Linked DNA regions of Homo sapiens. The protein of the gene in region 1 interacts with the protein of each later gene in a biochemical or structural test. Each region holds a gene or a part of one and is shown in the gene's direction. Other genes may lie near its edges. The genes, in order: XRCC3, SWSAP1 and ZSWIM7.

The links.
Region 2: the proteins of XRCC3 (region 1) and SWSAP1 form a complex in vitro, tested with the Homo sapiens proteins (one study listed by BioGRID).
Region 3: the proteins of XRCC3 (region 1) and ZSWIM7 form a complex in vitro, tested with the Homo sapiens proteins (one study listed by BioGRID).

What each region holds. Positions count from the first base shown.
Region 1 is NC_000014.9:103,712,393-103,720,084, reverse strand, and holds the start of XRCC3 (DNA repair protein XRCC3), read left to right. Parts: upstream 1-4,633; 5' UTR 4,634-4,661; exon of another isoform or gene 4,662-4,748; intron 4,749-4,762; exon of another isoform or gene 4,763-5,054; intron 5,055-7,116; exon of another isoform or gene 7,117-7,153; 5' UTR 7,154-7,210; intron 7,211-7,692. Other genes in the region: ZFYVE21 (zinc finger FYVE domain-containing protein 21), read right to left, coding at 4,106-4,243. UniProt on the Homo sapiens protein: Involved in the homologous recombination repair (HRR) pathway of double-stranded DNA, thought to repair chromosomal fragmentation, translocations and deletions. Part of the RAD51 paralog protein complex CX3 which acts in the BRCA1-BRCA2-dependent HR pathway.
Region 2 is NC_000019.10:11,369,885-11,376,723, forward strand, and holds SWSAP1 (ATPase SWSAP1), read left to right. Parts: upstream 1-4,781; 5' UTR 4,782-4,796; coding exon 4,797-5,045; intron 5,046-5,628; coding exon 5,629-6,132; 3' UTR 6,133-6,285; downstream 6,286-6,839. UniProt on the Homo sapiens protein: ATPase which is preferentially stimulated by single-stranded DNA and is involved in homologous recombination repair (HRR). Has a DNA-binding activity which is independent of its ATPase activity.
Region 3 is NC_000017.11:15,989,628-15,996,732, reverse strand, and holds part of ZSWIM7 (zinc finger SWIM domain-containing protein 7), read left to right. Parts: intron 1-2,954; coding exon 2,955-2,976; intron 2,977-7,105. UniProt on the Homo sapiens protein: Involved in early stages of the homologous recombination repair (HRR) pathway of double-stranded DNA breaks arising during DNA replication or induced by DNA-damaging agents. Required for meiotic progression, hence for fertility.

The sequences.
Region 1 (7,692 bases):
ATCTACTTGCATCTCAGGGACTAGAAACACGTGCGTTACTATCAGTTTTCTACAATTTGAAGCTGTCAGACAGTTTGAAGACGGTGACAGGTGCAGACACTATGATCACAGCCTGGGAGGGTTATGCTACAGGCGGCCTGGCCTCCCACAGGACGCCCAGGAATCCTTTTTTGTGGCTTCAAAGTCTCAGTTTTACCTAACATCAGTAACAGCTCTCCAGCCTGGGTGACACAGCAACACCTTGTCTCAAAAAAGAAAAAGCTCTTAGCCAGCCACAGGGACCCTTGAGGAGCTCGCTGGTGTCCCTGGCAGTATCTCATGAGGCTGCTGGTTCCCAGAACACCTGTGGAGGCTCTGGCAGCCCCTGGCACCTCACAGGGGTGAGCTTTACCCAAGCGCTGAGATCCTGGAAACAATTATGAAACCCCCCACCCTGCAGTGTGCTGGGAAAGCCTTCCACCGAGAACCACCCTCCCCATACGAGCCAGAGGAGATCACAGATGCCCCCCTTGCTTACCTGCAGCAAGGCCCTCCAAATTCCCATTCTCTGCCTCAGAAAACACTGGCCATTTCTCCTCATGATCAACTGGAACACAATTCCCTTACCTGGACTTTTTTTTTTTTTTTTTTGAGACAGAGTCTTGCTCTGTCACCCAGGCTGAAGTGCAGTGGCACAATCTTGGCTCATTGCAACCTCCTCTTCCCGGTTCAAGTGATTCTCCTGCCTCAGCCTCCTGAGCTGGGATACAGGCACACACCACCACGCCCGACTAATTTTTGAATTTTTATTATTTATTTATTTATTTTGAGACGGAGTCTCGCTTGGTCGCCCAGGCTGGAGTGCAGCTGCACGATCTCAGCTCACTGCAACCTCCACTTCCTGGGTTCAAGTGATTCTCCTGTCTCAGCCTCCCAAGTAGCTGGAATTACAGGCACTCATCACCACGCCCAGCTAATTTTTGTATTCTGGCCTCAGCTCTCTGATCTGCTGGAGGTCCTGACCCTCCACTGGCCCATCCCACCTCCCCAGCTTGATTCTTTCTAGCCTTGGCCACTCCTCCCTGCAAAAGAAAAGCCCTGTCCGGCCTGGCCTGTGAGACCCTCGCAGAACTCAGGGTCCCCTGTTCTCCCCGCTGCACAGCTCCAGACGCCTCTAGCAACAGTCCTCACTTCAGATCTCTCCTCATCCGAGTCCAGGCTCGTGATCAGACGCGCACGTGCTCTCTCCTTCCTGGCTCTGAATCTAGAGTATCCATCAAAGTGTCAACCCGCCAGCATGGAGCTGCGGTCATTCTTCTGCCAGCACCACGGATGGGAGGTGGGAGGGGTGCACAGCGGCAAGGATTTTAAGGATAAAACTCAGGATCTCAGCTGCTTGTGACAAGCCCAGATGGCTGCACGCCCGGACCGCCCACCCCCAAGCCCACTGCCTTGCGTCAGTGTCGGATATTTGATGGCAGAGTCAGACAAGCCCCAGAGATCATCTGAAGCTTCCTTCACACCCCCAAAGCACCTCTATCCAAAGTGGTGTCGCACGAAGCTTTACACGCCGCCTCTGCCTCCCCTGCCCCACAGGTTCCTGAGGAGGCACAGACTGGAGAAACGATTCTCAACTGGTTCTGCGTCAGAGCCTTGAGAATCTGAGAGCTGCAGGCCACCTCTCGGAGAAAGGTGCATGTGTGCACATGCTCCCCAGGGGGTTTTGCAGCATTTTAAAGGGATAACCCTCATGGGCCCAAACTGATAAACCAGCCCGGTCAGGCAGCTGGTATTCGGGAGACGGGCACTGGGCTGGATTCAGACTCCCCTGGCTAAGAACAGAGCTGGAATGAAAATGGACCAACACGTTTACAGATATGACGATGATGCCGATCGGCACACGGCCACCAAGCCAAGGACAATGTTACCCACCTGCCAAGTTCTACCAAATTCTCCTCTCCCCATTCCAAACCACCTCAAATAAACCTATTTCCCACAACTGGTTATCTGCACATTTGAGTCACCTCCCGACAATCACCTTAGCGGCCCCAAGCACGCAGCCAGCACAGTGTAGCTCAGTGTCCCCTTCAGCATCACCACATGCCAGGCGACTGTTACCGTACATGTCCCCTCGAGCTATTGCACCTAAAGCTGGACTTTATTCCAAATCTTCCAGCCCTTACTGCCCCGTTCTAAGTTCCTCCAGAACACTGTCTTTGGTCGTTTCTGGCCTGTAAGACCATGCTCCAATACAATTCACAACGCAAAACTCAGAGACAAAGTCCATCTTATTAGAATGGTTTCTCTGTCCCCCAAGCCCACCCAATGCTAGGACCTCCCTCAGCTGCTCAGATCCCAGTTAATCATCCAAACATGGTGGGGGGCTCTGGAGGGGTATCCTGCCACCACGCCAGCGTGGGAATGAATCTTCTCTTCCACGAGGGGTGCCACCTTGACTCAAGTGTTTCAACTCCACTCAGTCGGAAGTCACCGCGGGACTGCCACACAGTGCCTCAGCAGAGGCCACAAAGAAAGGCAGGGAAAAATGCTAAACAATTCAGCTGATACCAGAAGGGCTCTGGAAGAGAGAATGAAGGAGGGGAACACAGTGGTTCACTATAAAACAGAACCGTAAGATCAGTGCATGTGTACAGCAGGGAGAAAGAAATTGTGCTTTGGTGGAAACCTCTGCCTCATCTTGGCCACACTTTCTCACGTGCTCCTTACGGTTCATACAGACGTAGAGTATTTCTGTGCTATTAAGAGTTCGTTACACCATAAATACAATTTTCACGTGTCAACTTAAAAGTAAATTTTAAAAAAGATGAAGGAGGATGATTGGCGGAAAGTGTCTAAAAAGACTCCTCATGGTGGCGATACTGGGGAGAGGTGGGCAGCACTGGTCTCAACTCTCCAGGACACGCTCAGTGACCGGTGATGGCTCCGTACACTGTAGATGCCAGAGACACTTCCCCAGAGTCACTCGAATTCCGTCCTGTCCCCGAGGCTCTGTGGCCGCTCACCCCCCACCAGGCCTCCAACCAAGCTTCAATGAACCCAGTCAATTAGTGCTACTTTGACTTCTTGAACCTAGTTCCAACGTCTGCTTAGTTCTATCACTGAGGGAATTAAACGAATCTGTAACACGTGTTAAGTATGAAAGTCATATTACAAAAATTCTTTTTCTCCCCCAATTTTTTTTTTATCGTGGTAAAATCCACAGAACAGAAACTGGACACACCTGTTAGCGCACAGCCAGTGGGATTAAATGCACTCGGGGCCTTCCCAGTTGGCCAAGGGGCTGGTGTGAGGCAAAGGCACCTCCGATCAGGTCACAGGGAACCCCACGGGAGGCCCAGCGGATGGCCTGGCTCAGGGACCCCACGCCCACGCCCCAATGTCTGCAGGAGTGGCCTGGGCAACTCCTGCCGTGTCTGGGCCCATGGGAAACGGGTGCAAATCTGCGGTCTCCTTCAAACTGTCCAGTGGGCGACTGCGACCTCGCTTCCGAGGTGGAGGGTGGTATAGACGAAGGGAAACGGGGGGCAGCCTGGCCCGCAGACTGGGTCCTGGCCCTCCTTCCGAGCAGGAGGTGGCTTCGGAACCGGCCACCCGCCCGCGGCACCGACGCCTCCCCCGGTTCCCGGGAGGGACCCCTGCGGGGCCGCCAGCTCCAGCGCTTCCGCGGACAGCACGCGCCCTCCCCACCGAGCCTGCGAGGAAGGCGCTCCGCCTTCCACTTTCTCGGGAGCGAGCCCCAGCTCTCGGGACGCAGTCCACACGCGCTAGCCCAGCACGAACCGGCCTCGGGCAGGGCCGCACCCACCCCCGGGACCAGCCCGCGCCCCGCACCCCGCCTCCCGGCGCCCGCCCTGGACAGGTGCCTCCTGCCCTCCCGGGACCCCCGCACCGGGACACCGCGCGCCTCCCGCCCTCCCCGCGGGCGTAGGAGCCTGAGGCGGCGGCCCGGGGACGCGGCCAACCTGGGAGAGAGCGGGGGCGGGGGCCGGCTGGGGAAGGGGCCGCCCGGAGGCGGAGGGGTCGTCGCGGGAGCCTGGAAGCCCGCGGGGCCGGGCCGGGGCGGCGGGGCGGGTCGGAGGCGCTGGCCGGGGCGACGGCCACCCACCTCCTTGTCCGGGACCCACTGCGGCTCCTCCAGGCCGAACGGGCTTCCGAAGGCGCGGTGTTCGGGCACCATGCGCAGGCCGCTCGGGGAGCGCACCAGCTTCTTGGCGTCGCGGCGCGCGGACACCTCGGAGGACATGACGCCGCCTCAGCCTCTCGGCCAGCGGCCCCGCACCCGGCCCCTCGCCCAGCCCGGGGCACCGCCCGCCCCGCCCCGGTCCGCGCGCGGCTGACAGCGCCGGCGTCCAATCGCCAAGCCCGCCACGGAGCGCGGACTAATCGGAGCTTGAACTCCGCCCCATCGCTGCCCTCTCCAATCCGTGTAAGGGCACCGCCCCTGCAACCCTGAGGTCGATCACCAATCGGCGGCGAGGGCTGGCCCGGGTACGCTCCGCCCCTCTCAGGGAGATTGAGACTTTGGATTGGTTAGTTAGTCAGTCACGTTAGCGCCGCTTCGTCTCTGATTGGTGTAGCCCACTCAGGGTGCTAGGCGCCTATTGGAGGAGAAGGCCGAGAGGAGCAGGACGGCGGGAAGAGGAGTGCGGAACCCGCGGGAGGTGAGGCCCGCCGAGCCGGGCTGCGAGCCGGGCTGCGAGCCGGGCGGCAGCGGGGTCGGAGGTCGTGGGCGGCAGCGGGCGTGAGGGGTGAGGCAGGGTCAAGGGGCGGGGGCGGCCGCGGGTCTCCATTGCCCGAGCCTGTGGGAGCAGGCGGGCCTGGGGCTGCAGCACTCACCCCGGGAGCCCCGCCGCAGCTCGGGTAGCGTTCAGGCACCTCGCCGGGGCCGGGCCGCGTGCGTTCGGAGCGGGGAAGGCGGTCTCCGGGGCCCCCGGTGCGCGCGGGGAGGCGTCCGCTCAGGGGAGGCCGAGGTGGGCCCGCGGCTGCGCCCCCGGCCTTCGATGCCTTCGCTCGTCCGCCTGGGACCGCGCTGGCTTCGCATCGAAGTGGGAGAGGTCTGAACAGTTATTTTAATACTTTGATTTGGAAAGAAAATCCTTTAGGCCGGGCGCGGTGGCTCACGCCTGTAATCCGAGCACTTTGGGAGGCCGAGGCGGGCGGATCACGAGGTCAGGAGTTCAAGACCAGCCTGGCCAACATGGTGAAACCCCGTCTCTACTAAAAATACAAAAATTAGCTGGGTGTGGTGGCACGTGCCTGTAATCCCAGCTGCTTGGGAGGCTGAGGCAGGAGAATTGTTTGAACCAGGACCCGGGAGGCGGAGGTTGCAGTGAGCCGAGATCACATTACTGCACTCCAGCCTGGGCTACAGAAAAAGACTCCATCTCAGAAAGCACACAAAAAAAAGAAGAAAATGTTTGTTCATCCTGCCTTTAATTCCTTATTACAAGGCGTGAATTTTTATTGTTTTTTTTGAGACAGTCTGGCTCTGTCATCCGGGGTGGAGTGCAGTGGCGTCTTCACAGCTAGGCACAACCTCGACCTCCCAGGCTCTCAAGTAGCTGGGACCGCAAGCGCCACTACACTGGCCAGCTATTTTTCTTTTTTTTTTTTTTTTTCGGTAGAGAGTAGGTCTTGCTGTGTTGCCCAGGCTGGTCTTGAACTCCTGGGCTCAGGCGACCTTGGCCGCCTTGGCCTCCCACGGTGCTGGGATGACAGGCATCAGCAGTGTTGAAGCCTGTGAGGTGGGGTCCCTGTGGCTGACTCTGCCCTCTCCTGGGGCCATTGGCAGTGCAGGGGTCCTTGTGTGTGGAGGAAATAAGGAGATGATCAAAGTATGATTCCACGAATCACACGGTTTATTGTCAAAGAAGATTTGTTCTCGGGTTCACAGTGCTCAGAGGGGAGGAGAGGGGAGGAGGTGAAGACACCTGGCAGGGAAGCAGGGCCTCCATGGATGGGGTGCATTCACGGCAGGGAGGTGAGTGGCAGAACGGCCAGGGTCCGGTTGCTCTGCTGGGATGGAGCGGGCCCCTGGAGAGTGAGATCTGGTGAGAGTTCGAGGTTTGCCTTGGTAGCAGTGGAGAGCGTGAGAGCGGGAGCTCTCTGAGAAGCTGGGACCGAGGTCCAGCTCCCAGGCCAGCAGCGTATAGCTTGCCTCAAAGCATCTGCACAACCTTCAAGCTGATGTCTGTTTTTGCAGTCCAGCAGTCAGGGTCAGTAACTCACATAAGGGAGTGTCTGACAAGGTTTAAGTGGCATTCCCAAGGTTGCGGAGTTCACTCAAGTCCTCACATATGTGGTCTGATAAGACATCACACTCTTGCAGGGGGGTCAGGTCACCCCAAAACATCAGACTATGTAAGTGCTGTGAATCACTTCAAAGCTACACAGCAGGTCCCAGGGCCCAAGGCAGAGGAGTGAGTCCACCTCGGAAGGCTCAGAGCAGCTCCAGGCAGTAACCACGGCATTTCCAGAGTCTGGTGTGTGAGCCTAACAGCTCTGGTGTGACCGTCCGTACTCACCTAGCAGCACGTGACATCAGCTCTCCCCCTGAAGTCATTGCTCAGCTCGGGTGCTGCAGGAAGACATACAGGTCTGTCTTGGGCCAGCCCCTTGCCTGCTGTGGGCTGCTCCCTGTGTGTGGCCTTCACCCCGGTGTAGAGAGATGGGCTGGTCACACCCCTGCCCCTCACAGCGGCGAGAGGACAGAGGCATGTGCCGGGCTGTCTGTGGAGCTCCCAGGCCAGTGTCTGGGATGCGGCAGGTGCTTGGTGTTAAAGGGAAAATATTCCAGGATATCTGTGAAAGCACGTTAGGCAGAGACCAGGCTTTCATTCAGAACCTTTGAGAGATGTGGGAACCACCACACTGCGGTCTTGCAGTGGGAGAGAGGCTGGGCTCAGCTCTGAACAGGCCATGGGCTGGTGGCGGCTTACAGCTCCAGAGCTGGGCAGGGGCAGAGGATGGAAGGTTGCTAAGAGGAACCCCCAGGGGCGAAGGGGATGCAGGTTCAACTGACCTGCCAGATCAGGCCGCCCGGGGGACAGTGGAAGATGAGGCGCCTAATCAGCTGTCAAGGGTGATGGGACACGGGAGGAGGTCGTCACTAAACAGACTTTGAGCCAGGCCTGTTAAACCAAGTTCTCAGCAGGATGTGCACAGAGGGCCCAGGAGGAGCCTCAGGAGCCGGACTGCCGTTGGCCAACCGGTGAGTCTGTTATCCGTCAGTGGACACTCTGCTTCCAGGTGCCTTGGCCTCGGCCCGCGTCCTGAAGGCGGGAGACGTTGCAGCCACGTGCTGGCCTTCCCGGTGCTCCTGCCAGCGTCCCGCTGCTTGACACAGTCCAAGTTTTGTATCCAGACCCAGCCTGGGACAGCAGCCTCCCGACAGCCCCCAGGCCCAGCCTGTCTGTGACAGTCACGCCTGCTCAGGGAACCATCCCTCCGTGCAGATCTGGGCTGTGTTTTGGGTGGTACCTCGGGTGTGGGGTCCCCTACCAGGTGCGAGGTTCATACTCCCCAGGCTGCCTCCTGTCCTCAGGGCTTGGAGAGTCCCATGTTCTGAAAATGACCTCTTTTCGAGCCGGGCAAGGCCGCATCTCCTTTGGCAGTGTAGTGTCTTCCCTGGAGGTGGCATTCCTTTTTGATTTGCCTTCTGTGCTTGGGAACCTCACTTCCTCACTCTGGCCA
Region 2 (6,839 bases), on another chromosome or scaffold:
TCCCATTCAGGAGGGTGGTGACAGCAGCCCTGGCCTTGCACCAACCCCCATACTGGGATAGATGATCTTAGAGAACACAGGCTGGCTTGTACCTGTTTGGGATTGGCTGGGCGTGGTGGCTCACGCCTGTAATCCCAGCACTTTGGGAGGCCGAGCCAGGCGGATCACTTGAGGTCAGGGGTTTGAGACCAGCCTGGCTAACATAGTGAAACACCATTACTACTAAAAATACAAAAAATTAGCTGAGCGTGGTGGTATGCGCCTGTAATCCCAGCTACTCAGGAGGCTGAGGCAGGAGAATCGCTTGAACCCAGGAGGCAGAGGTTGCAGTGAGCAGAGATCATGCCATTGCGCTCCAGCTTGGGCAACAAAAGCGAAACTCCAGCTCAAAAAAAAAAAAAAAAATGAAAGCCTTCTCAGCTGGGCACAAGTGGCTCATTCCTGTAATCCCAACACTATGGGAGGTCTAGGTAGGAGGATTGCTTGAACCCAGGAGTTTGAGATCAGCCTAGGCAATGTAGCAAGACCCTGCTCTCTAAAAAGTAAAGCGTTTAGGCCTGGAGCAGTGGCTCACGCCTGTAATCCCAGCACTCAGAGAGGCTGAGGTGGCAGATCACCTGAGGTCAGGAGTTCAAGACCAGATTGGCCAACATAGTGAAACCCCATCTCTACTACAATTACAAAAATTAGCCAGGAGTGGCAGCATGCGCCTGTAATCCCAGCTACTCAGGAGGCTGAGGCAGGAAAATCACTTGAACCCGGGAGGCGGAGGTTGCAGTGAGTCCAGATCGCACCATTGCACTCCAGCCTGGGTGACAGTGCGAGACTCGGTCTCAAAAAATAAAAAAACGACAACAACGACAACAAAAATCAAAAGCCTTCTCAACATGCCCCTGTGGGTCTCACAGCATCTCAATCTCAAGTTGACTAAAACAGAGCTCTCTGATTTAGAATGTCACAACACAACTATCCCAGGCACAGAGCTCTCTCCTGTCTCCTCATGACTCGAGTAAAAGCCAACTTTCTCCCAATGCCTCAGGGCCCTTGCACTGAATGAATTCTCCACCTAGAATGTTCTTCCCCTGCATATTTGCACAGTTCACACCCTGACCTCTCTCAGGCCTTTTCTCAAATGTCGCCTTCCCAGCCTGACCCAACCACCCTATTCAAAATTGAAAAAACAACTGGCCCTTCCTTCTAACTTCCCTTCCTTGTGCAAATTTCTTTTCTTTTTTTTTCTTTTGAGATGGAGTCTTGCTCTGTCACCCAGGCTGGAATGCAATGGTGCGATCTCAGCTCACTGCAACCTCCACCTCCTGGGTTCAAGTGATTCTCCTGCCTCAGCCTCCTGAGTAGCTGTGATTACAGGCGCCCCACCCCGCCCAGCTAATTTGTGTATTTTTAGTAGAGATGGGGTTTCACCATGTTGGTCAGGCTGGCCTCAAACTCCCGACATCAGGTGATCCGCCCGCCTCAGCCTCCCAAAGTGCTTGGATTACAGGGGTGAGTCGCCGTGCCCGGTCCCTTGTGCAAATGTCTTTTTGCCTATGCTTGTCATGTGCTCACAGTGTTTCAATTCCTCGTGATGCTCAGTGGGTCTTTATAGGTCTCCCTCACTCGGATGTCGCTCCACCAGGACAGAGATTTGATCTGTTGTCTGTTCACTGTGGGGTCTACAGTTACTAGAATGGGCCCTGATACATAGTAGATACTATTGCTTGAGGATGCCAGTAAACTAAGGATAGGCACAGAGTGACCCCAAGCCACCTAGTTCCTACCCTGTAGCCCCAGGTCCAACCCTACCTGCAGGCAGGTACATTCCTCCATGATTCTCCTCTATGGTAAATCTTCTTCTGTCAAGATGTGAAGACAGGCCAGACACAGTGGCTCATGCCTATAATCCTGGCACTCTGGGAGGCCAAGACAGGCGGATCATCTGAGGTCAGGAGTTTGAGACCAGCCTCGCCAACATGGTGAAACCCCATCTCTACTGAAAGAAATACAAAAGAAAAAAAAATAAGCTGGGCATAGTGGTGTGTACCTGTAATCCAAGCTACCCGGAAGGCTGAGGCAGGAGAATTGCCGGAACCCGGGAGGTAGAGGCTGCAGTGAGCCGAGATCGCGCCACTGCACTCCAACCTGGGTGACAGAGCGAGACTCCGTCTCGAAAAAACAAAACAACACAACAACAATAACAACAAAAACAGATAATCAGTTAAAGAGTGAAATGTGTGCAATTTTGGGCAGGCAGTCAGGGGAAGCCTCTCTGAGTAGATGATATTTTGACCAAAGACCTAAAAAGAGTGGAGGGAAAAAAAAGTCGGCTGGACTCGGTGGCTCACACCTGTAATCCCAGCACTTTGGGAGGCCAAGGCGGGCAGATCACCTGAGGTCAGAAGTTTGAGACCAGTCTGACCAACACGGAGAAACCCCGTCTGTACCAAAAATACAAAATCAGCCGGGCGTGGTGGTACATGCCTGTAATCCCAGCTACTTGGGAGGCTGAGGCAGGAAAATCACTTGAACCTGGGAGACGGAGGTTGTGATGAGCCAAGATTGCACCATTGCACTCCAGCCTGGGCAACAAGAGCAAAACTCCATCTCAAAAAAAAAAAAAAAAAAAAAAGCCAGAAGGATATCTGGAAGCTGACTGCTGCACACACAAGAACATCAAGTGCAAAGGACTTGTGGTGAGGCTGTATTCAGCATGCTCCCATGTATGTAACTGTGCTGGACTCTGTGATGTGGGTGTCACTACTGAGTATTTGTGCATTTTTGTTTGTTTTTGTTGAGATAGGGTCTCGCTATGTTGCCCAGGCTGGAGTGCAGTGGCACAATCACTGCTCACTGCAGCTTTGACTTCCTTGGGCTCAAGCAATCCTCCTGCCTCAGACTCCCAAGGAGCTGGGACTACAGGTGCACGCCACCACACCTGGCTAAATTTTTTTTTTTTTTTTTGAGACAGAGTCTCGCTCTGTCGCCCAGGCTGGAGTGCAGTGGCGCGATCTCGGCTCACTGCAAGCTCCATCTCCCGGGTTCACGCCATTCTTCTGCCTCAGCCTCCCAAGCAGCTGAGACTACAGGCGCCTGCCACCATGCCTGGCTAATTTTTTTTTCTATTTTTAGTAGAGGCTGGGTTTCACCGTGTTAGCCAGGATGGTCTTGATCTCCTGACCTTGTGATCTGCCCACCTCGGCCTCCCAAAGTGCTGGGATTACAGGCGTGAGCCACCGCGCCCGGCCAACACCTGGCTAATTTTGAAGTATTTTGTAGAGATGGGGGTCTCCCTACATTGCCCAGGCTGGTCTTGAACTCTTGGCCTCAGGCAATCCTCTTGCCTTGGCCTCCCAAAGCACTGGGACTACAGACATAAGCCACCACACCTGGCCTGTATGTGCATTTGGAGTGTTGAAATGTGAGGTGAATCATGCGTTGTATATCTGCTGGGGGATGGGGGCTGAGGTGGCGTGTTTGACAGCGCAGTGTATCGGTGTGCTTCACTGTGTGTGTCTGTGTGTGTAGTGGCAATGTCATAGTTGCGTGTTTTGCAAGAGAAAGGGTGTGGGGGATGAATGTGGGACAGAGTTTGTATGGGATGCTTTGTGTCAGGATAGGGCAAGGTTGGAGCATGTGGATGATGGGGATTCTGAAAGTAGAATATATTCAGAGATGCCATGGTGTGTGTGTGTGTGTGTGTGTGTGTGTAGAGGGGTGTGAGTGAGCCCAGCTGTGTGAGTGGGTGTGTTGGGGGATGTCGTGGAGCTGTTTTCTGGTCCCAGAGGGAGAGAGAAAGCCCAGGAAATCTCACTTTCTCCCTGCCCCTGGGTCTCCAGGCAACGGCACCACTTTGGAGTTACCAGGAGACAAGGTTGCCAGGGCAACACAGGCGTGAGTGGCAGCTCTGGGGCGAAGTCTGGGTGAGAAGATCCAGCCAGGGATCACGATCATTCACTTTGTTCCTCCCTTTCTCCCTGTTTCTCATCAATCCCACCTCCCTTCCTTCATTGTCTTAACGAGCACGTATTTGAGAACCTACAAATGTGCTAGGTGCTATTCTCGGTACTGGAGAACAGAAGTGAACAAGACAATGTCCCTGCTGTATCTCTCCTTCAGTCTTCCAGCTCCTGTCTCTTTATCTCTCCTGCTTCCTTCTTTGTCCTGCGGTCCTGCCTTCCCCCCGTACCACAAAGGCGGCCCCACAGAACCCCTTAGCCAGTGAGGAAGTAAGTTGAGAGGCTTCATCTCACAGACTTTCGGGGATGGCCGTTGATGTTTTGTCCACGAGCCTGTGTCCCCAGACACACACTCCGGCCCATACTCAGGTGCACAGAAAGACAAGCACACAGCTCATCCCCCTCTCCAAAACTCTCAGTTGTCATTGGATGACATCAGCAAAACCACACACAAATACATGCCGATCACAATACTCCTCTGAGATATCATAAGCCCCATTTTACAGCAGGGCAAACTGAGGCTAGGAGCCTTTAAATAATATGTCACTCATTCTGGTCTACTCCTCCAACTTTCAACCCTTATATTTGTCTGATTAGCTGACAATAATAGTATTCGTGCTGGTTCCCCCAGCAGCCTCCCTCAGGGAAGGGTCTTATTTCCCTCGAATGCACCCATTCCTCCGCATAGGTTCTAACCATTTGCCCATTCACCTGAGGAATCGAGTTTTGATGGACAGATTCCTAGACCAATAGAGAAACTAAGTGAACTGTACCGATGCGGCCACGGCTTGGGCGGGACTAAGGCTGGGAACGAGCCACCGATTGGTCAGAGCTACGCGGCGAATGGCGGAGACGCTGAGGCGGGTGCTAACCAGGGGCGGTGCGGCCTGGTCCGGGGAGGAGAACATGCCTGCCGCCGGACCGCCTTTGCTGCTGCTCGGTACACCAGGATCTGGAAAAACAGCGCTGCTATTTGCTGCGGCCCTAGAGGCGGCGGGGGAGGGCCAAGGCCCAGTCCTCTTCCTGACACGAAGGCCTCTTCAAAGCATGCCCCGCGGGACCGGAACGACTCTAGACCCAATGCGACTCCAGGTAACCGTGGGGGTGGGAGCAGAGGCGTTCTAGCCAATGGTGGAGTAGATCCGGGATATTGAGTAACAGGTAGACAAGCCAATGGAGAGGACGGTGGAAGAGCGAGCCAGGGCAGCCACGATGGGGCGGAGTCAGGCAGGCGGAGTGAGGAGTGGCACCACGCGGAGCTTAGTTAAGATTGAAGTGAGAGCCCATCCAATGATGGGCGGTGTTAGCAAGAGGCGGTGCCCAGAGATTGAAGTCCGGCCCATCAAGGGGCGGGGCTAAGCTTGGGTCCATTCTGGACCTGAGTTGGTTCCTGTTAGTGTCAAGGATGGGGTCAGACCGAGAATGCTGGGGGAGGGTTTTCCGTGGAAAAATTGCGCTAGAGATTTGGCCAAAAACAAACAAGCAAAAATGGCTTGCCCTCAACTAATACTCGGCAGTGATGAGTGCTGGAAAAACGGGCGAATATAAGAATATTTAACAGCTCTGAACTGGTTCATCCTGGAACCAAGGAAAGTATGCAAGGAGGCAGGGTTACTTTTAAGGAGTCTGGCTTCCTGTGCTGAATCCGGCCCTTTCCTTCTGTTTCTCCTTCTAGAAGATCCGCTTCCAGTACCCACCCTCAACCCGAGAGCTTTTCCGGCTCCTGTGCTCTGCCCATGAGGCCCCGGGGCCAGCCCCCTCCCTTCTGCTGCTCGACGGCCTAGAAGAGTACCTAGCGGAAGACCCAGAGCCCCAGGAAGCCGCCTACCTCATTGCCTTACTTCTAGACACAGCTGCCCACTTCAGCCACCGGCTTGGGCCTGGCCGGGATTGTGGGCTCATGGTGGCCCTCCAGACCCAGGAGGAAGCAGGTAGTGGGGACGTCCTGCACCTGGCACTGCTCCAGCGGTATTTTCCTGCCCAGTGCTGGCTGCAGCCAGATGCACCAGGTCCAGGAGAGCACGGCCTCCGAGCCTGCCTGGAGCCAGGCGGGCTGGGCCCCAGAACAGAGTGGTGGGTGACTTTCCGATCAGATGGAGAAATGATGATCGCTCCGTGGCCCACCCAGGCTGGTGACCCCAGCTCAGGCAAGGGTTCAAGCTCTGGAGGCCAGCCCTGAGCTTTGGTGGGTGACTACCTCTCTGTGCTTCAGTTTCCCATGGCTGGAATACTTACCTCAGGGACATATGCAGATCCAAAGACCTAAACAATGTAAAGTGCTTTTTCTCTTTTAAAAGTATAGCATTATCTTGTATATATTTTACCCAATCAATATGTTGTTTATAGTTTCATTGCTTTAAACTTTATAAAAAGAGCTTCAGGCCAGGCGTGGTGGCTCACGCCTGTAATCCCAGCACTTTGGGAGGCTGAGGCGGTCAGATCACCAGAGGTCAGGAGTTGGAGACCAGCCTGCCCAACATGATGAAACCCTGTATCAACTAAAAGTACAAAAAAAATTAGCTGGGTGTGGTGGCAGGTGCCTGTAGTCTCAGCTACTCAGGAGGCTTAGGCAGGAGAATTGCTTGAACCCAGGAAGCGGAGGTTGCAGTGAGCCGAGATTGTGCCACTACACTCCAGCCTGGGTGACAAAGCGAGACTCCATCTCAAAAAAAAAAAAAAAAAAAAGTTTGAGACTTCCTTCTTTTTGCACTCAACGTTGTTACTAAGATTCATCTACATTTTTTTAGTTCATTCCTTTTTCCATATTGCATATAATTCCATGGGTGACTATACCCTGATTTCTTCATCAGATTGCCTTATTTACTGCTGCGAACATTCTTGCACACATGCCCTGGTACGTGTGTGTGTTTTTAGGGGCCGAGACAG
Region 3 (7,105 bases), on another chromosome or scaffold:
ACCACAGGTGTGCACCACCATGCCCAGCTAGTTTTTGTATTGTTTGTAGAGACGGGGTTTCACTGTGTTGCCCAGGCTTACTACCTTATATTATGGCACACAGACTCTGCCAGCTTCCTGAAGAAGGGGGCATGAGATGTACCTTTTGAGGCTTTCTTTTCTATTTTTTGAGACCGGGTCTCACTCTGTTCCCCAGGCTAGAGTACAGTTGCGCAATCACACCTCATGCCCAGCTGATTATTTTATTTTCTGTAGAGACGGGTCTTCCTTTGTTGCCCAGGCTACTCTGGAACTCCTGGGCTCAGGCGATCCTTCTGCCTTGGCCTCCCAAAGTGCTGGGATTATAGTTGTGAGCCCCCACACCGGCCCCTGTTTGAGGCTTATGTCTGAAAAAGTTGTGGGGTTTTTTTGTTTTTTTGGGTTTTTTTTGAGACGGAGTTTCGCTCTTGTTGCCCAGGCTGGAGTGCAATGGTGCAATCTCTGCTCACCGCACCCTCTGCCTCCTGGGTTCAAGGGATTCTCCTGCCTCAGTCTCTCGAGTAGCTGGGATTACAGGCATGCGCCACCATGCCCGGCTAATAGTTTTTCTATTTTTAGTAGAGATACTAAATGTTAGTCAGGCTGACCATCGCGCCCGGCTGAAAAAGTTCTTTTTCTGCCCTTACACTTAAGTGATTGTTTGTCTAGGTATTGAATTATTTGTTGGAAATAATATTTCTTCAGACATCTGAAAACATTTTTCCACTACATCTTAGCTTCTAGTGTTACTCCTGATTTTTGTATGTGACCTTTTTTTTCTCTGGAAGTTTGAATTATGTTTTCTTCATAACCAGTGTTCTGAATCTTCTGATAAAGTTTTTTTTTTTTCACTTCACAGTGTGGGCACACAGTGGGCCCTTTCAAGCTAGAAATTCATGTCCTTCAGCTGTGGGGAATTTTGAATTATTTGATTGATGAATTCCCTCCATCTGTTTTCTCTGTTCTTTCCGGTATTTCTGTAATTAAGTTACTGGATGTCCTCTGTTGTCCTTCTGGTTGACTTACTGTGGCTTCTGTGTTGCTTTTATATTTTCTCTACTTCCTGGGAACTTTCTTGAACTTTATCTTCCAGATTTTCTGTTGAATTTCTGCTGTCTTTTTTTTTTTTTTTTTTTTTTAAGAGACAGGGTCTTGCCGGCCACAGTGGCTCATGCCTGTAATCCCAGCACTTTGGGAGGCCAAGGTGGGCAGATCATCTGAAGTCGGGAGTTCGAGACCAGCCTGATCAACATGGAGAAACCCCGTCTCTACTAAAAAAATTAGCTGGGCGTGGTGGTGCATGCCTGTAATCCCAGCTACTCTGTAGGCTGAGGCAGGAGAATTGCTTGAACCCGGGAAGTGGAGGTTGCGGTAAGCCGAGATTGCGTCATTGTACTCCAGCCTGGGCAACAAGAGCGAAACTCCGTCTCAAAAAAAAAAAAAAGAGAGACGGGGTCTTACTGTGTTGCCCAGGCTGGCCTCAGACTCCTGGTTTCAAGCAATCTTCCTGCCTCAGCTTCCCAAGTAACTGAAACTACAGAGACATACCATGTATTTTTAATTTATAACTTTTTTTCAGAAGATTCCCTTTTTCTTCTTATTATGCCTTCTGCCTGTTTTTGTGCCTGTTTTATGATTGCATTAACTTTTTTCTGATGATAAAATATTAGTAATAGATGTTTAAAATTTTCTCCTTTCTGCAGTTTTTCCTCTAACTTTCTTCTGTTTGTTTTATTCTATTTCCTTTTTCCTTTGTTGTCTGGTAACCCTTGGCTGTCTAGTCATATTTCAGAGTGGAAGACTAAAAAGTATATTGGAAGCTCTGGGTGGTAGAGGGGCTTACGGAATATGAACGTCACTATAGTTGTTCTCAGTAGGCTATTTAGTTGGGGAAACCATTTCAGTGTCATTCCCACTTCTCTTGGGGTATACCTAGGGAAGACTTCCAGTCTCCTGGCTGAAGTGTGAAGGCCTGATTGCTTGTGTTATGGGAGCCATGTTAGGGAAGAGAGCAGGAGATCCTGTTTTCAGTGTGACACCCTGACTTTCACTGTACCTAGTATTTTTCCCTAGTCCAAATAGCCTGTGTTTGAACCTCTCCAGAAAATAAACCTAGTCTCTTGCCAGAATGAGGGAAAGGCAGTCACCTAAAGCTGTGGAGGGAACTGGGGTCCCACTACTTCTCAAACGTACTCGAAAAGAGTCTTATTTTCATATCCCTGTTTCACCCCTAATGAAGCTATTTGGTGCCACCAATTCGTTAGGGTTTGGGGAAGGGGAGAGGTGGATTTTGGAGTGTAACTCAGGCTGGTGCTTGACTCTCCCCATTGCTGGCCTAGGATTCAGTTTTCTTAGGTCTTATAAATCATTTTCCACTCTTCTATCAGCTTCCAATGTATCATGGCTGTTGTTTCTCCCTGTCTTTCTCATCCTTTGGAATTCATACTTTTAAAAACAAATCTGGCCGGGCACGGTGGCTCATGTCTATAATCCCAGCACTTTGGGAGGCCAAGGCCAGTGGATCACTTGAGGTGAGGAGTTCAAGACCAGCATGGCCAGCATGGTGAAACCCCATCTCTACTAAACATACCAAAAAAAATTAGCTGGGCATGGTAGTGCATGCCTGTAGTCCCAGCTACCTGGGAGGCTGAGGCAAGAGAATGGTTTAAACCCGGGAGGCGGAGGTTGCAGTGAGCTGAGATTGCACCATTGCACTCCAGCCTGGGTGACAGGACAAGACTCCGTCTCAAAAAAAGAAAAAGGAAATCCTTTTATTATGGTTTTAGTGGGGTTTGGGGAAGGAGTAAAACCAGATGCATAGGTTCAGTTGACCATCACACACGGAAGTGTTTTTAGTTACAGTGTTTTTTAAGATTTTTATGTCAATGGTCACTGCTTAATATGATTAACTTTTTTTTTCCATTCTCATTTTACAGTTCCTGATGAATATCTGTTATCGTAAGTACATATACTGTTGTATTTGATTTTTTTTTAACCATTAATGTTAAAATCCTTTCAACATCAACTCTTGATTTTTAAAAATACTCTTGACCGGGCGCAGTGGCTCACGCCTATAATCCCAGCACTTTGGGAGGCCAAGGTGAGTGGATCATGAAGTCAGGAGATCAAGACCATCCTGGCCAACATGGTGAAACCCCATCTCTACTGAAAATACAAAAAATTAGCTGGACGTGGTGGTGGGCACCTGTAGTCCCAGCTACTCAGGAGGCTAAGGCAGGAGAATCACTTGAACCTGGGAGGTGGAGGTTGCAGTGAGCCAAGATCATGCCACTGCACTTCAGCCTGGGGACAGAGTGAGACTCTGTCTCAAAAATAAATAAATAAATAAATAAATAAATAAATAAAATAAAAAATAAAAATATTCTTACTACCAGGCACTGTGACTCACACATGTAATCTCAGCACTTTGGGAGGCAAAGGCAGGAGGATTGCTTGAGCCCAGGAGTTCGAGACCAGCTCTAGCAAAATAGGGAGACCCCCCATCTCTACGAAAATAATTTTAAAAATAGAATAAAAGGCCAGGCACCGTGGCTCACACCTGCAATCCCAGCACTTTGAGAGACTGAGGTGGGTGGATCACTTGAGGTCAGGAGTTCAAGACCAGCCTGACCAACATGGTGAAACCCTGTCTCTACTAAAAATACAAAAGTAGTGGGATGTGGTGGCACACACCTGTAATCTCAGCTACTTGGGAGGCTAAGGCAGGAGAATTGCTTGAACCCGGGAGGTTGTGGTTGCATATCTCGCTGCGATTGTGCCATTGCACTCCAGCCTAAGTAACGAGCAAAATTCCATCTCAAAAAAAATAAAAAATAAAAAATACTCTTAGAAACTAGGAATAATATTTTCTTGACATGATTCTTAAAAATTTGTCTCAATTGAATAGCCAACACCATATCCAGTATTGTCATATTTGCCACTCTTATTTAACATTGTTTTAAAAATTGTGGCTGTTGGCCGGGCGCAATGGCTCACGCCTGTAATCGCAGCATTTTGGGAGGCCGAGACGGGCGAATCACCTGAGGTCAGGAATACAAGACCAGCCTGACCAACATGGAGAAACCCTGTCACTATTAAAAATACAAAATTAGCCAAGCATGGTGGTGCATTCCTGTAATCCCAGCTATTCGGGAGGCTGAGTCAGGAGAATTGCTTGAACCTGGGAGGCAGAGGTTGCTGTGAGCCAAGATCATGCCATTGCACTCCAGCCTGGGCAATAAAAGCGAAACTCTATCTCAAAAAAAAAAAAAAAAAGCGTAGCTGTTCAACTAACACATGAAAAAGAAATTACAAATGTACCTATCTGCAAGGAAAGACAATTATCATTATTTGCAGTTGATACAACTACTTAAATGAGAATAATATAGAGTGGTCAGTTATTTTAAAAATGCAGAGACCAAAAAAGTAAAAGCTACCTAGGTATAAGTAATACTTAATTACTGATACACACTTACATTTAAAAATCCTGGCCAGGTGCGGTGGCTCACGCCTGTAATCCCAACGCTTTGGGAGGCTGAGGCGGGTGGATCACCTGAGGTCAGGAGTTCGAGACCAGCCTGACCAACATGGTGAAACCCCGTCTCTACTAAAAATACAAAAATTAGCCGGGCATGGTGGCAGGCACCTGTAATCCCAGCTATTCGGGGGGCTGAGGCAGGAGAATCGCTTGAACCCAGGAGACAGAGGTTGCAGTGAGCTGAGATCATGCCATTGCACTCCAGCCTGGGTGACAGAGGCAAGACTCTGTCTCAAAAAAAAAACAAAACAAAACAAAACAAACAAAAAAAAACAAAACCTGTCCCAGGAGGACTGTTTGAGCCCTGAAGTTCCAGGCTGCAGTGAGCTATGATTGTGCCACTACACTCCAGCCTGGGTGATGTGAGACCTTGTCTCTAAAAAAATAAAAGTTCTGAAGAATATATACCAAGCTCTACCAGTGTTTTTTCTTTGGGGCAAGGAAGGAGGTAGAATTGAGGGAACGGCCTTAACCTTTACTGTATTTCTTAAATTTTTAATAAGAATTAAATATTACTGGAAAAAAATGTACTACTTTAAAAACAAAAGGGCAAAGAATAAAAGATGTAAATAGCCGAATCCTTTGGGAGGAAAAAGACAAATCTTACTAGTGACCACAAAAATACAAATTAACATAACATAACTTTTCATCTAGAAAATTAGTGACCACAGAAAAGAAGTTGACACAAATATGGGGAAAGGGGTCATTTATAACAGGAATGTAAATTGCAGGGTAACAGGCAATAGGAACTTTAAAACATACATATTCTTTGACCCAGAAATTCCACATAAAAGAACATATACCCAGGAAGTAATTATAGATGTTTGTAAAGATTTTACAGTGAGGATATTCTCAGTGTGATGAATATCCAGTATTGTTTATGGTAGCAATAAAACATAGAAACAATCTAACAATTCATGGAGTTTGAGGAGAATAAAAATGATTCATCTTTACAGTAGAATTATTTGTAACCATTAAAAGTGATATGGAAAAATTTTTAATGCATTCAAGAGATGTTCACAGTAGGTATTAAAGTGGACAGAGCAGGTTAAAAAAATTCTTTTTTTTTTCAGACAGTGTCTCACTCTGTCACTGAGGCTGGAGTACAGTGGCGCGATCTCAACTCACTGCAGCCTCTGCCTCCCAGGTTCCAGTGATTCTCCTGCCTCAGCCTCCTGAGTAGCTGGGACTACAGGTGGCACACACCGAGGCAGGTGGATGATGAGGTCAGGAGTTCCGCCTGCCTTGGCCTCCCAAGGTGCTGGGATTACAGGCATGAGCCACCACACCTGGCCTTAAAAAAATTCTTAAAGGTAACTGTTGAGATTGATTGGTAAGGTTCCCGACAAATTTTATTTCATTGTTTTTTGTATTTTGTTATTTTATAGACTAAATCTTCATATGTTTAATATAAAAATTCAAAGCACTCTTTTCTATTTCCCCCAATAATTTGTTGTATATGTGGCTGGTTTGTTGGAAAATGAAGTAAGAAGTTGAACATTTTAATTTTGAAGCCTTACTAGGTTTGTCTTACTCTGTGTTAAGTCATATAAGTTCTTTAAAACATTAACTTTTCAGTTTGAGTTTAACCCTGCCATTTTATTTTCTAGTTTATAAAAATAACCCACACTTAGGCCGGGTGTGGTAGCTCATGCCTGTAATCCCAGCACCTTGGGAGGTGGGATGCGCCTGTAATCCCAGCTACTCGGGAGGCTAAAGCAGGAGAATCACTTGAATCTGGGAGGTGGAGGTTGCAGTGAGCAGAGGTCGTGCCACTGCACTCCAACCTGGGCAACACAGTGAGACTCCAACTCAGTAATAATAATAATAATAATAATAACCCACACTTATAAAAAACTTTTATTGGAAAATAAAACCTATAAAAAGCATCAATAATCATACCACCCAGTAATAATCACTCTTAAATTTTGGTTTATTGCTTTTTTTTTTTTTTTTTTGAGACAGAGTTTCGCTCTGTCACCCAGGCTAGAGTGCAGTGGCGCGATCCCGGCTCACTGCAAGCTCCGCCTCCCGGGTTCACACCATTCTCCTGCCTCGGTCTCCCAAGTAGCTGGGACTACAGGTGCCTGCTACCGTGCCCAGCTAATTTTTTGTATTTTTAGTAGAGACGGGGTTTCACCGTGTTAGCCAGGATGGTCTCGATCTGCTGACCTCGTGAGCCACCTTCCTCGGCCTCCCAAAGTGCTGGGATTACAGGTGTGAGCCACCGCGCCTGGCCGGTTTATTGCCTTTTCAAAAAATTAAATTTTGGCCAGGCATGGTGGATCACGCCTGTAATATGAGGATCGCTTGGGGCTGGGAGTTTGAGACCAGCTTAGGCAGCACAGGGAGACCCTGTCTCCACAAAATCAAAAAATTAACTGGATGTGGTGGTATATACCTGTAGTCCCGGCTGCTAGGGAGGCTGAGGTGGTGGGAGGATCACTTGAGCCCAGGGGGTTCAGGCTGCAGTGAGCCATGATTGCACCACTGGAATCCAGCCTGCCTGGGTGACAGAGAGAGACTTTGTCTCAAAAAACAAAAAACAAA